3 linked regions of the Homo sapiens genome follow. The protein of the gene in region 1 binds, or shares a complex with, the protein of each later gene. Each region holds a gene or a part of one and is shown on either strand. Other genes may lie near its edges. The genes, in order: CWC27, PLRG1 and CWC22.

Evidence for each region.
Region 2: CWC27 (region 1) and PLRG1 share a complex: the UniProt entries of both Homo sapiens proteins name them as parts of the minor spliceosome.
Region 3: the proteins of CWC27 (region 1) and CWC22 are in contact, whole or in part, in a crystal structure (PDB 6YVH), measured with the Homo sapiens proteins. Residues at the interface, in NP_005860.2 of Homo sapiens: Arg381, Glu382, Asp383, Gln384, Thr385, Leu386, Leu388, Leu389, Phe392, Lys393, Lys395, Leu396, Thr397, Ile400, Glu412, Asp415, Asp416, Glu417, Gly418, Trp419, Met420, Ser421, His422, Val423, Leu424, Gln425, Phe426; in NP_001362958.1 of Homo sapiens: Leu239, Arg242, Lys243, Tyr245, Arg246, Asn248, Asp249, Lys250, His270, Glu271, Val272, Leu275, Glu276, Thr279, Leu280, Leu281, Glu283, Arg284, Thr286, Asp288, Ser289, Val292, Val307, Ser308, Pro309, Arg310, Gly311, Thr367, Met369, Leu372.

Annotation. Positions count from the first base shown.
Region 1 is NC_000005.10:64,766,804-64,770,553, reverse strand, and holds the start of CWC27 (spliceosome-associated protein CWC27 homolog), read right to left. Parts: upstream 1,625-3,750; 5' UTR 1,408-1,624; coding exon 1,366-1,407; intron 1-1,365. Other genes in the region: protein SREK1IP1, read left to right, coding at 2,037-2,049. UniProt on the Homo sapiens protein: As part of the spliceosome, plays a role in pre-mRNA splicing. Probable inactive PPIase with no peptidyl-prolyl cis-trans isomerase activity. As a component of the minor spliceosome, involved in the splicing of U12-type introns in pre-mRNAs.
Region 2 is NC_000004.12:154,548,436-154,552,185, reverse strand, and holds the start of PLRG1 (pleiotropic regulator 1), read left to right. Parts: upstream 1-1,785; 5' UTR 1,786-1,877; coding exon 1,878-1,886; intron 1,887-3,250; coding exon 3,251-3,357; intron 3,358-3,750. UniProt on the Homo sapiens protein: Involved in pre-mRNA splicing as component of the spliceosome. Component of the PRP19-CDC5L complex that forms an integral part of the spliceosome and is required for activating pre-mRNA splicing.
Region 3 is NC_000002.12:180,005,297-180,009,046, reverse strand, and holds the start of CWC22 (pre-mRNA-splicing factor CWC22 homolog), read left to right. Parts: upstream 1-1,749; 5' UTR 1,750-2,180; intron 2,181-3,750. UniProt on the Homo sapiens protein: Required for pre-mRNA splicing as component of the spliceosome. As a component of the minor spliceosome, involved in the splicing of U12-type introns in pre-mRNAs. Promotes exon-junction complex (EJC) assembly.

The sequences.
Region 1 (3,750 bases):
CTGCTGGGATGCAAGGCATGATTGAAGTTTGCTATTTCATAGAAAGTAGATAAGAAAGGGCTCTTTGCTAAGGTCAACACTTGATTAGACAGAGGAACAGCAAGTGTGAAGGCCCTGTCTGGCAGGATGGTAAATCTATTCAATCTCTACCAGTGTTTATTAACTGGGGGTGATATTGCCCTCAAGAAACATTTGGAAATAGGAGGAGGTAGGTATTTTGGGTTTTCACATTGATATTAAATAAGATAGGTGAGGGGTGGGATGGACATACTAATCTACAATGCCCAGGAGAAGTTCAAACAAAGAATTGAAAGAATTGGTCTGCCCATAAAATATCCATTACATTTTTGCTGGGAATTACAGCATTTTTGGTTTCACTTTTAAATTGCTCTCATTACATTATCAAATGTCAATGAATAAAAGACTGTATAAATTATTTATGATGCAATCATGTAACAAACAGGATGGTATGTTGTGTAAATTTAGCTTATCTTAATTCAACTATATACTTCCAATCTCATTTTCTCCAATATGCTGATTCATCAAATTTCATATGTGATATAAGCTAGGTCTCAATTTAAGAATTCAGGTGACACTTATTCCACAACAGACTCTTCTGCCTTGTACAGCATACAAACATCTTGGATGGGAATTGGCATACATTAGCCATCAAATCAATCAGAGAAACCTTTCCCCATTCTAATGTGGTAATAGTCCCCATTTCCCACTTTCTCTGACTGACAGTCATCTCAGGTTTTAAAACCAGCTCAAAAGATATCTTTTCCATGAGGCTTTTCCTAACTTCCCCAGTTGTTCACTACTCAGTACCGCCATAGCAACCTGGTCTCTTCTCCACAAGCACGCTTATCAGACATACAGGCTTTTGTTTACCTGTCTGTCTCACAAACTAAACTATAAGCTTTTCCGGGAAAACAACTACCTTACCCATCCATCTTTGTATCTCCGGCGCCTAGTACAGTGCCCAGTGCCTCGCAGGCGTTCAATTAATGATTGTAGAAGAAATGGAGAATGAATGACCTTAGTTAAGCAAAGAATATATCAAACTCAAAAATGTCTGTTTAAAAACCTAAGACCCCAGAAATCGGCTGCATGAGTTGGGTTAAAGCATTAAATAGGACCGGAATGCTGGTAGGTAGAGAAATCTCCACTTGACTTCTTCAAGTACATCCTGAAAAGTACCAACATCAGTGTTTCGATGCAACATTGTCCACATGCAGGAGTAAAGACAACACTTCTCGTGGTCTCTTCCTACCACGAGATCCTGAAACCCACTCCCCACCCCAAATCCGGGAAATCTCACTTTGGGGATCCCAGGACCCCAAGTTCCCTAGATGAGGCTCTCACCTTCCCATTCGTGGGAGGCTCCTGGATGTAGATGTTGCTCATCTTGGTCAGTACAAAGGACTCTGCTCCTTACGGGGGATGAGAGCGGCCGGCCGGCCACTAAAGCTGTCCGCCTACGAGTACACTCTTCCTTAAGTCCAGTGGTGCAGGAAAGCTTCAGTTTGTCAATATCACGCAAGACAGGGACACCAAACACTACCCCTGCCCAAAGGAGCCCCTCACGGACGCCGCCATGTTGTTACCGGACCCGAGCACCGCTAACCCTGAGAAGGGTTATTCCAATGTACTCCAGGGAACGAGAAAAGTCCGTAAAGTTACCATAGCTTAATGTTATTTATGTTATTTGTATTACAATATTAGAAGGGACACTTCATAAGTGTTGGCGGTGTTTACACTACTCTCGTGTGCAGATCAAACTAACTCCCCCTCCAAAACTATCAGTAATGGTTCGGACCATGTGTCTTCTGCAATATGACTCGTCCGGAAACTGCATCCGCATCTACTGGTTCTGCCGTCGCTAGAGGCGTACAGGCCCTTCCCGACCGTAGCGAGGGTGCTGCTGCGCTGGGGGAAGGAAAACGCCGCTTTGACTGTGCCTTGTTCTCACAGCTGGCGGGAAGCAAGCGCCTTTTCGAAAGCCAGAGGCTCGAGTTACCCCTCTTACCACCGTCATGGCAGTCCCAGGTAAGGAGCAATTACAGGGCCTCTGCGTCCGAGCTCCGAAGGGAGCGCAAGGGAGGGTAGGGTAGGGTGCGGCGTGTACGGAGCAGCGCCCATGGGGATTTAGGCGGAGGCCTTAAAATTCACAGGTTTGTTTTGTTTACATGAAAAAGTTTACACTCCAAACATAAACTCTGAAGGAAAGAAAATAACTATCTTCCCCCCAGGAGCCAAGCCCCAGCTGCTTGGGATTACAGGGAAAGTGTATTGTGGAAGGGAGGGAGGAGGGAGAGACTGTAACTGTAGGCCTAAGGGGGCAAGCGGCCGAGAAAAACTACCTTAACTGTGGTATGGCTTAAAACTAAAACTTGAAGTGGGAACACTTGGCCGACCCAGGTAACCGGAGGCATCGTTTGTCTTAGAAGTCGCTAGGACCCACCGGGTGTGCGGGTTCTACTCCTAGCTCTTCCTGTTGTATGTAGCTGCTCCGTGGCCATAGATTGGTCGCTTTGTGCTTCTGGGCCTCAGTTTCCTTATAAAAAGAAGGAGCTTTGTTGAATTATATATAAGATTTCTTCTAACTCTCAAATTCTATGTCCAGAAGTTACTGACCTAAAAACGGTGAACTCTGCAGAATAATTACTTAAAAGATTTTCTCGTCCTCAACTACCAGCTTACTTGGAAGTTCTAGTAGCGGAAAGCATCTCCTCAAACCAGCTTTGCCACTGCAGAACACTGATTGCAGGAGACATTTTCAGAAATACACACTTCTCCACCCCACCTCCCAACTTGGAAATTCCCAGCGCACTTTAGTAATAGAAAAGATTCTATTCTATTAGAATAGAATACTATGAATTGCTATAGAATTACTATGAACTATAGAATTACTATGGTTCAGAACCCTAACTTTGTTTAAACCTGCACTTCCCAGTATTATTTGACCAGGTTCTTTATTCTGTGGCAGCCTTTTTGAACCTCCTTCTACAGATAGCTGTTATTGGAACACTGTGCTTTTGTACTAACTGAAGTTTGCGGAGGAGTACATCTGGAGCTGTGAGAGAGGAAATGTACACTCTTTATTAAGCCTACTGTGTGCCAGGCACTGGTACTGGGCATTGGAAATACAGTGGTGAGCAAGGTAGACATGGTTACGCTTCACACAGAACTTAGAATTTAGCAGTGAAGAGAGAGAAATTTACAGAAAGTGGGACAAGTGCCATGGCAAGGAAAATACAAGACCTTAGCACAAAGTAAGGGCACCAAACACATACAGGATGGGCAGAAGGACTTTCCAAAGGAGGTAGCACTTAGGAGGAGATCTGAATTGTAGGAGGGGTGGCTTGAAGGGAGAGGAGACTGCAGTCGGAGGAACTGGATACGTAAAGGAAGAGGAAATATGTGAAAAGAGGAAATGAAAGATGTTTTCTATGGATGGAACTCAAATACAGATGGGAGATAAGTGAGAAATTAAGTACAGAGGTAGTAGCTGTAGCTAATATTGACTAATATTTATGTGTCAAATATGTCAGAATGAAAGATGTTTTCTGTGGATAGAACTCAAATACAAATGGGAGGTAAGTGAGAAATTAAGTAGATAGTAACTGTAGCTAATATTGACTAATATTTATAAGTCAAATATGTCAGATACTATATCAAACATTGTATTCTATCTCATTTAATATTCACAACTGCACTGTGAAATGAGTATTAATATTCCCATTTTAC
Region 2 (3,750 bases), on another chromosome or scaffold:
ATATTCCCATATAAATACAAAATTTTCCTACAATATACATAATTCATGAATCCCTGAACTAAATAATAGGGTCACTTGAGTTCTATATTTATCTAAAATATTGTAAACTTTCAAGGGGATGACATCATTCTATAAATTCACGACAGTGTTTTAAAAGGAGCAAATTCGAGGCAATTTACCTCAATCATTACCATGTTGTTATTGAGAAATTAAATTAATGTCTCCAGGATGATTAAATATGTAAAAAGTTAATAGATCCAACTAGACAATTAATATATTGCCATATATATTAGTCTTGCTTAGGTTTCTATGGTTTTATTGTCATTTCAAATCATGTTATTTTCTATAGTTATTATTAATAGGTGAGTATATTATTTAGTTCATCAAGTATATATTTTACAATTATGGTATTTTCTTGCAAGGAAATACCATCACCTGCCACCTTTACAGAAAAGCAATTCTTAGGCCAAACTCACAGTTAAATTCAGAGATGCTGTATCTTCAAGTAAAAACATGACCTTAAGGCAGGGCTCAGTGGCTCATGCCTGTAATCCTAGCACTTTGGGAGGCCGAGGCGGGCGGATCACCTGAGGTCAGGAGTTCAAGACCAGCCTGGCCAACATGGTGAAACGCTGTCTCTACTAAAAATACAAAAATTAGCCGGGCATGGTGGCGGGCGCCTGTAATCCCAGCTACTCCAGAGGCTGAGGCAGGAGAATAGCTTGAACCTGGGATGCTGAGGTTGCAGTGAGCCAAGATCGCGCCATGGCACTCCAGCCTGGGCGACAAGAGCGAAACTCTGTCTCAAACAAAAACCCATGACCTTAATGTTTTTAATGAATTTCCAAGTAAGGTTGATTTATATTGCTATTCTTTTGCTAGATTTTTTCCCCCTCTCAAAGTGTAAGCAGTATGCTCTCAGGACAGGATTAGTGAAACTGAAACAGGGCCAGTAAAATGTTTGTCTATTTAAGTTTGTAAATGCCTAAGTCCATCCATTTTTTTTTTTACATAGAAAAATAATTGGGTAGGGTTGATCACAAACCACAGATTTTACCAGGGTAGAAAGCAAAAATACCAATACTTGGCACAAGGATATGTATAAATAAAAATGGCTAAAGTCTCCAATTGTGTCTTCTACCAGCTTTGAAAAGCTGTACCCTGGCATTGTTGAAGCCACAATAATCAGCAGGCAACTAGGAAATGGACAAGAGCTATGCAGTTTTGAGAAATTAAAAAAAAAAATCTATTAGCAGAAAATAAATATGGGGTTTTGTTATAACTACATGTCAAAATTTTCCAAATTAAAACAGCTATTCCTCAACGTTCACTTAACAAGTGTTTACTGGACTGTTTAAGCGAAATTGTTTTCAGGTGTTAAGCCTACAAGTGTCCAAGTGCTTCTCGCCAGGATTAGAACCAGGAGACACAAAGCACGCAGGCGACCTCCAAAGAGATCAAGGTAGTGGAAATGCCTTAGATAGAGCCCACGGGAGTTTGCTCTCCAGACGCTTAGGTTCTCTGAATAAAAAGCGTTAAGCTTCCGGGGAATACAGCACGAACAACCAGGACCCCAACTAAGGCAGAAAACATAATTCTAAGATTTCTTCAGAGGGACGAGTGAAACCCTCCACCCAGGCCCTTCCAGGAGTCTCCGGCTTTCAGCCTCGAGACTCCGCCCTAGAGGCGGTCCCGAGGAGGGAGACCCGCCTCCTGATCCTAGATGGCCGAGGGAGACTAGCGCGCGTGCGCAGAGCTTGCATCACATCCGCCGCCTGGGCGCCCAATTCCGGAAGGTGCTGCACAGCTGTGGCGGCGGGTACTGCGTTAGTGATTAGAGTTTCTTCCCTGCCGGAGGTGGGATACACGGTAGCATCATGGTCGAGGTAAAGTGACACTGGGGCTCTCAAGAGTCGTTTGTCTCTGGACTGTTTTTTTTGGCAGTGCGCGTGGGGGATTGAGAGTACTTGGAGTCCAGAGAGAAAAGAGGCTACGAGGGGAGCTATTTGGCCAAGGCCGAGTGGTCTCTTCTTCGGGTTTTCGGGGAAGGGGTAGAAGCCGGATGAGAACCCGAGTCGGAGGTTCAGCCTGGGCGCGAAGCCTGAGATAATTCGTCCAGTCCTCGTTTGACTCTTGGGAGCTGGAAAGTGTCCTCGGAGGCGGGGCCTCTGTTGGTGATCGACCACTGGTACTTGCCGCCCTCGGGGCAGTGTCAGTGAGTCTGTGCCCTAAAAGATTGGTAGTCTTCTCTATCTTGCGTTCAGGTCGTCTCTTATTTCACCTCTACCCCCAGAAAAACTTGCCGTTCTTTACATCTTTCCCTGGCATGAACAGCCAACGCTGTTAGCTGGTCTTGTCCATCTTACCCCACATGTTTATTGATTCCATTCACTCTTCTCCATATCCGCTGCAGTCCACCTTAATTGAGACCAACATCATCTTTCACCTGGACTGGTGCATTAGCTCCCCGTTGGTTGGTTTCCTTGCTTCCATTTTGTTCTATAAGTTGTTCTGTTTAAAACGTAAGTTGTTCATACCTTTCTTGTTTAAAACCCTTTACTGACCCTATGTTGCTAGAACAAAATATAGGCTGTTGTAATAGTCTAAAAGACCTTACCTAATCTGGACCTTGTCTACCCTTGCAGCTACAAAGCACCATCTCATCCTCCATACACAGCTGTACTGCGCTCCTTGTATTATTTCAGTTAACTGAACTTTTTTTTACATGACATTTCCATCAGCCTGGTTCGTTCTTACCTCTGTTTTGTGCAAGGCTAACTCCCTTTCTGCTTAAATATCACCTTAGTGAAATCTTTCACAATTATACTTAGTCCTTCATTCCCTGACTCAGCGCCTTGCTTGTTGCCTTCATAGCACTTATCAAAATGTGGAATTATTTTACTTTTTATTTGTCTGTTTCCTCTTGAGCACAGGGACCATGACCACCTTTTTATCATTCTATTGTGAGATTCTAGCACAATACCTGCCAGACACACAGTAGGAGCTCAGTAAATATTTATTGAGTAAGTTAAACTCCGGCATCACTCAGTTGCTAAACCTGAGGTTCTAGCCAAAGAGGAGCTTCCTCCTCTTCTCTGAACTTGACTCCTGTAGCTTGCAACAAGTAGCTATGGTGAGTGGTATAAAGCTTTTTACATATTTAAACACGTGAAGTGTATAATCAATCTGACTTTAGGTTATGATTTGTGTAATTTGTAGATAGGTGTGTAATTACATTCTTTTTTTTTAGGAGGTACAGAAACATTCTGTACACACCCTTGTGTTCAGGTCGTTGAAGAGGACCCATGACATGTTTGTAGCTGATAATGGAAAACCTGTGCCTTTAGATGAAGAGAGGTTGGTGTAGTTTTTTTTTTTCAATTGCTAAAATACTTAACATTCTAATACTAGGGGAAGAGAGCAGGGAGAGGGAGTCCTTTAAAGATAAGCTAGTCATGGGCTAATTATTCAATAATGAGTGGTGTTTTGGCATAATTTAAGCTGATTTAACTTTTTTTTTTGGCCTTTTACAGTAAAAGTTCCATTAATTAATTGCATTTTACAAATACCCAGTAATTAAGAGAGTCCCTTTTAGGTATTTTATTTTATAATCAATCACTTTGTATGTGCTTTCAGCTTCCCGCTGCTCTCAGAGCCTTGCTGAGCTGAAATTGTACCTGGCTAGTACCTCTACTCCCATCTTTTCTCGTTAGTATGATGAAGATTTTTGAGTGGTGGCATATTTTTGGT
Region 3 (3,750 bases), on another chromosome or scaffold:
CTGACAAATCCAATTCTTTTCCAGCTCCATCTAGTTCTCCTCTGCTCAACCCTAACTTTCCTATTTCTGTTGATAGTTGTAGAGGTAGTATATTCATCAGGGTTCCCTAGAGGGACAGAACTAATAGGATATAGATAGATAGATAGATAGATAGATAGATAGATAGATAGATACACACACACGCACACACACACGTATATATATCCTATTACATATATATCCTATTTTTTATATATATCCTTATATATATATCCTAATATATATATCTATATATAAGGATATATATATAAAAAGGGGAGTTTATTAAGTATTAACTTACACAATCACAAGGTCCCACAATAGGCTGTCTGCAAGCTTGAGGAGCAAGGAGAGCCAGTCTGAGTCTCACAACTGAAGAATTTGGAGTCCAATGTTTGAGGGCAGGAAGCATCCAGCATGGGAGAAAGATATAGGCTGGGAGGCTAGGCCAGTCTTGCCTTTTCATATTTTTCTGCCTGCTTTATATTCGATGGTAGCTGATTAGATTGTTCCCACCAGATTAAGGGTGAGTCTGTCTTCCCCAGTCCACTGACTCAACTGTTAATCTCCTTTGGCAACACCCTCACAGATACACCCAGGATCAATACTTTGCATCCTTCAATCCAATCAAGTTGACATTCAGAATTAACCATCACCGGTAGTATTGTGGGTTTTTAAATATATGAATACAAATGTTCATCTCCAGATCCATCTCCTGTGCCCTGTATTGGTGCACCAAAATGCACCATCAACAATGGCCAAATATCTTAAATATGAAATAAAATAGATAACACTATTGTATACTAGCAATTATCTTAAATGCATCTTGTGTATCAACTAATTCAATTCTTAAAACTACTGCCTGGATGGATACTATTGGTATTTCCATTTAACAGATCAGGAAACGGCCACAGAATGTGAAGTTACTTGCCCCAGTCATCCATAAATAATAAAAGGACTCAAGATTCAAAATAAGTAGTCCAACTGCAGTGTTTTTATTCTTAATCATCACACTCTGCCTCCAGAAAGGAGTGGAAGCACAGCACCCTAAAACTGTAATAGAGAAGTGTGTGGAGAAACCAGTCCTGGTTTATGAAAGATTTGATAACATAAAGATATTCTTGGTTTAGGAAGAGAGTTTCCAAAATAGCAAGTAGTTGAACTTTTAGGTTTTGTTACTAGTGAAAAGTGAAGTTTAAAGAAACTGTTTGATGCCCTAGTTCTGCACGCTGTACAAACTGCTACTTCCTACTCAGCCAGGCAATCTCTTTATTCTCAGGTCATACCAGTTGGTACCTTAACCTAAAAGAGAGGCAACACAGTCTCTATAGAATTAGTTTTTCCTCATTATTTCACTCTATTTATGATTTAATATTCTCCCATTCTTATGGCCTGGATATCTTGGAATTTATTAGGCACTTAACTGTTGGTCAAACTCTTATAAAGTCTCAGGAAAATCTCTCTCTTAAGATTTTTCAAGGAAAGTGACAACTGACTGCTTTTTTAAAAAAAATTTCCCCAAAATGCAGTGAAATAGTTTTAAAGTAAATTCGGCTAGACCCTGAACACTACTAGGCTGCCAGTGAGCAGCGTGGATGTTAACTCGCTGGCGCGCATCTGTATGAACTACAATTCCCATCGTACACCGCGCCATTTCACGCTAAACTACAATTATGCTTTCCTCATTTCCGTCAGCACAGGCGCTGGATTTCGGACTTTGTAGTTCATGCCAACTTCTCTTTTTTGTCGCCATTTTGGCAACAAGACAGTGTGCCTGGATCGACTACTTTGACTCTGGTATTATGATATGGTATTTGAAATAAATTAAAGGGATAACGTGTCAAGCCAATTGAGCGTCAAGTTTTTAAATATTTCACTATTCGCCTTCTTCCTACCGTCGGTGCTCGGGAAGAGGAAGTGACGTACGTCCGGTGTAATGGCGGCGCGGTGGAGCTCTAGGTAATTATCGAACTCCGTGGAGTCCCCGCAGGCAGAGACGCGGAGTGGGGGTGGCGGGTCGCCGGATCGGGTGGGAAGTAAAAGACCCCCAGGAGTGGGTGCGGGCTCACTGATACGGCTGTGAGCGGCATTGGAGTGTGCGTGGGTCTTCTCGCTACGCTCGGGCCCGCAAGAGGGGTGTGAGAGCGGCTAGGTCCAAGCAGGTGGGGAGGGAATGGGCTGCCATGAACTGACTGCCTGAGCGGACCGGCTGACCTTCCTTGTGAAGTTCCTGGAGCTGTCTGAAATCCTGCACCAACGCTGGTGCTGTGTTGTTTCTTGTGCACTGCGTTTTATACTTAGAGCCTCTGGAGTCCATTGGGGCTTGCCAAAGCCCCTTTCCTAGTGCCCGGGTCCCAGGGTCAGGGGAGTGGGATTAATGAGATCTAGTTGATTAAAAGTTAGTTGAATTACTTGCACTCTTATGCCTCTTGCCGGCATTATATCCCTTTGACTATTTGTTTTAAATTTCATTAGCGTCTTCTTTTTCATTTATTTGCCCTGTAAATACTGATAGTGTCTAGTGTTTAGTCTTGAAGACACTTCGCTTCTCATGTGCCCGCTTCATCTGTCATTCTTGATCCTTCCATAACTTGAACTATCTCCAGTGAGGTAATAACTGCCAAACTTGGGTCTCCAGGCTCCACCTCTCTAACGAGCTCTGGGTCCTACAACACAGCATTATATAACGGAAATATAATAGTTAATTTCACTGAGTTTAACTGCAAAAACCACGGTACCTATTTCCATTTAATCCTAACAATTCTTCTGAGGTAAGTGGAGAAGGCAGGATTTGGAGAAAGGCTATTCTAGATGCAAGAATTAGGTAAGAGTTTCCTTTGCATTTTTAGATGTGCAGAGACTCGAAATAGCAGATAAGCAAGCAAACTTGGTTCTCAGCAGATCAGTTAACCTACCTCTTATCTGTATTTAGACTTACCTTGTTTTAGGATTGCTTGTGAATTCAGGAGTTAACATAAATTATCATCCTACTATGGAAGGGCAGATTTAAAATTGACATTAAAAGTGTGGTTTTGACCAGGAGAGGAGAAGCATTGTTACAGGCGTTATCAGTAGGTGGAGGAAAGCCACTTGTGTTGGTCCTGGGTGATGGACTAGTAGACCAAAGATTTCTGTTTTATCCAGCTATTATTAGGTCTGTCACTTGGAGCAAGTTACCTAAAGTCTCTAGTGTCAGCTTCATCATCTGGAAACATGTAGGTAGTAATACAATACCTGCCTCACTGTATTGTCTTTTTTTGAGTATAAAGAAAAATAATGCAGATGAGGCACTGAGCACAGCGTTAGCGTTGTATTATTGTAAATTACTACTATGATACAGTTGATGAGTTCTCTCTGTTCCTCAATTCTTGTTCTCTGGTTCTGAATGTTGCCTTTCCACCTGTAAGTGTCCTTCCAGTTGTTTTTTGTTTTTTGTTTTGTTTTGTTTTGTTTGAGACGGAGTCTTACTCTGTCGCCCAGGCTGGAGTGCTGTGGCGCTATCTCGGCTCACTGCAAGCTCCGCCTCCCTAGTTCATGCCATTCTCCTGCCTCAGCCTCCCAAGTAGCTGGGACTAAGGTGCCCGCCACCACGCCTGGCTAATTTTTTGTATTTTTAGTAGAGACGGGGTTTCACTGTGTTAGCCAGGATGGTGTCTGTCTCCTGACCTTGTGATCCACCCGCCTCGGCCTCCCAAAGTGCTGGGATTACAGGCGTGAGCCACCGCTCCCGGC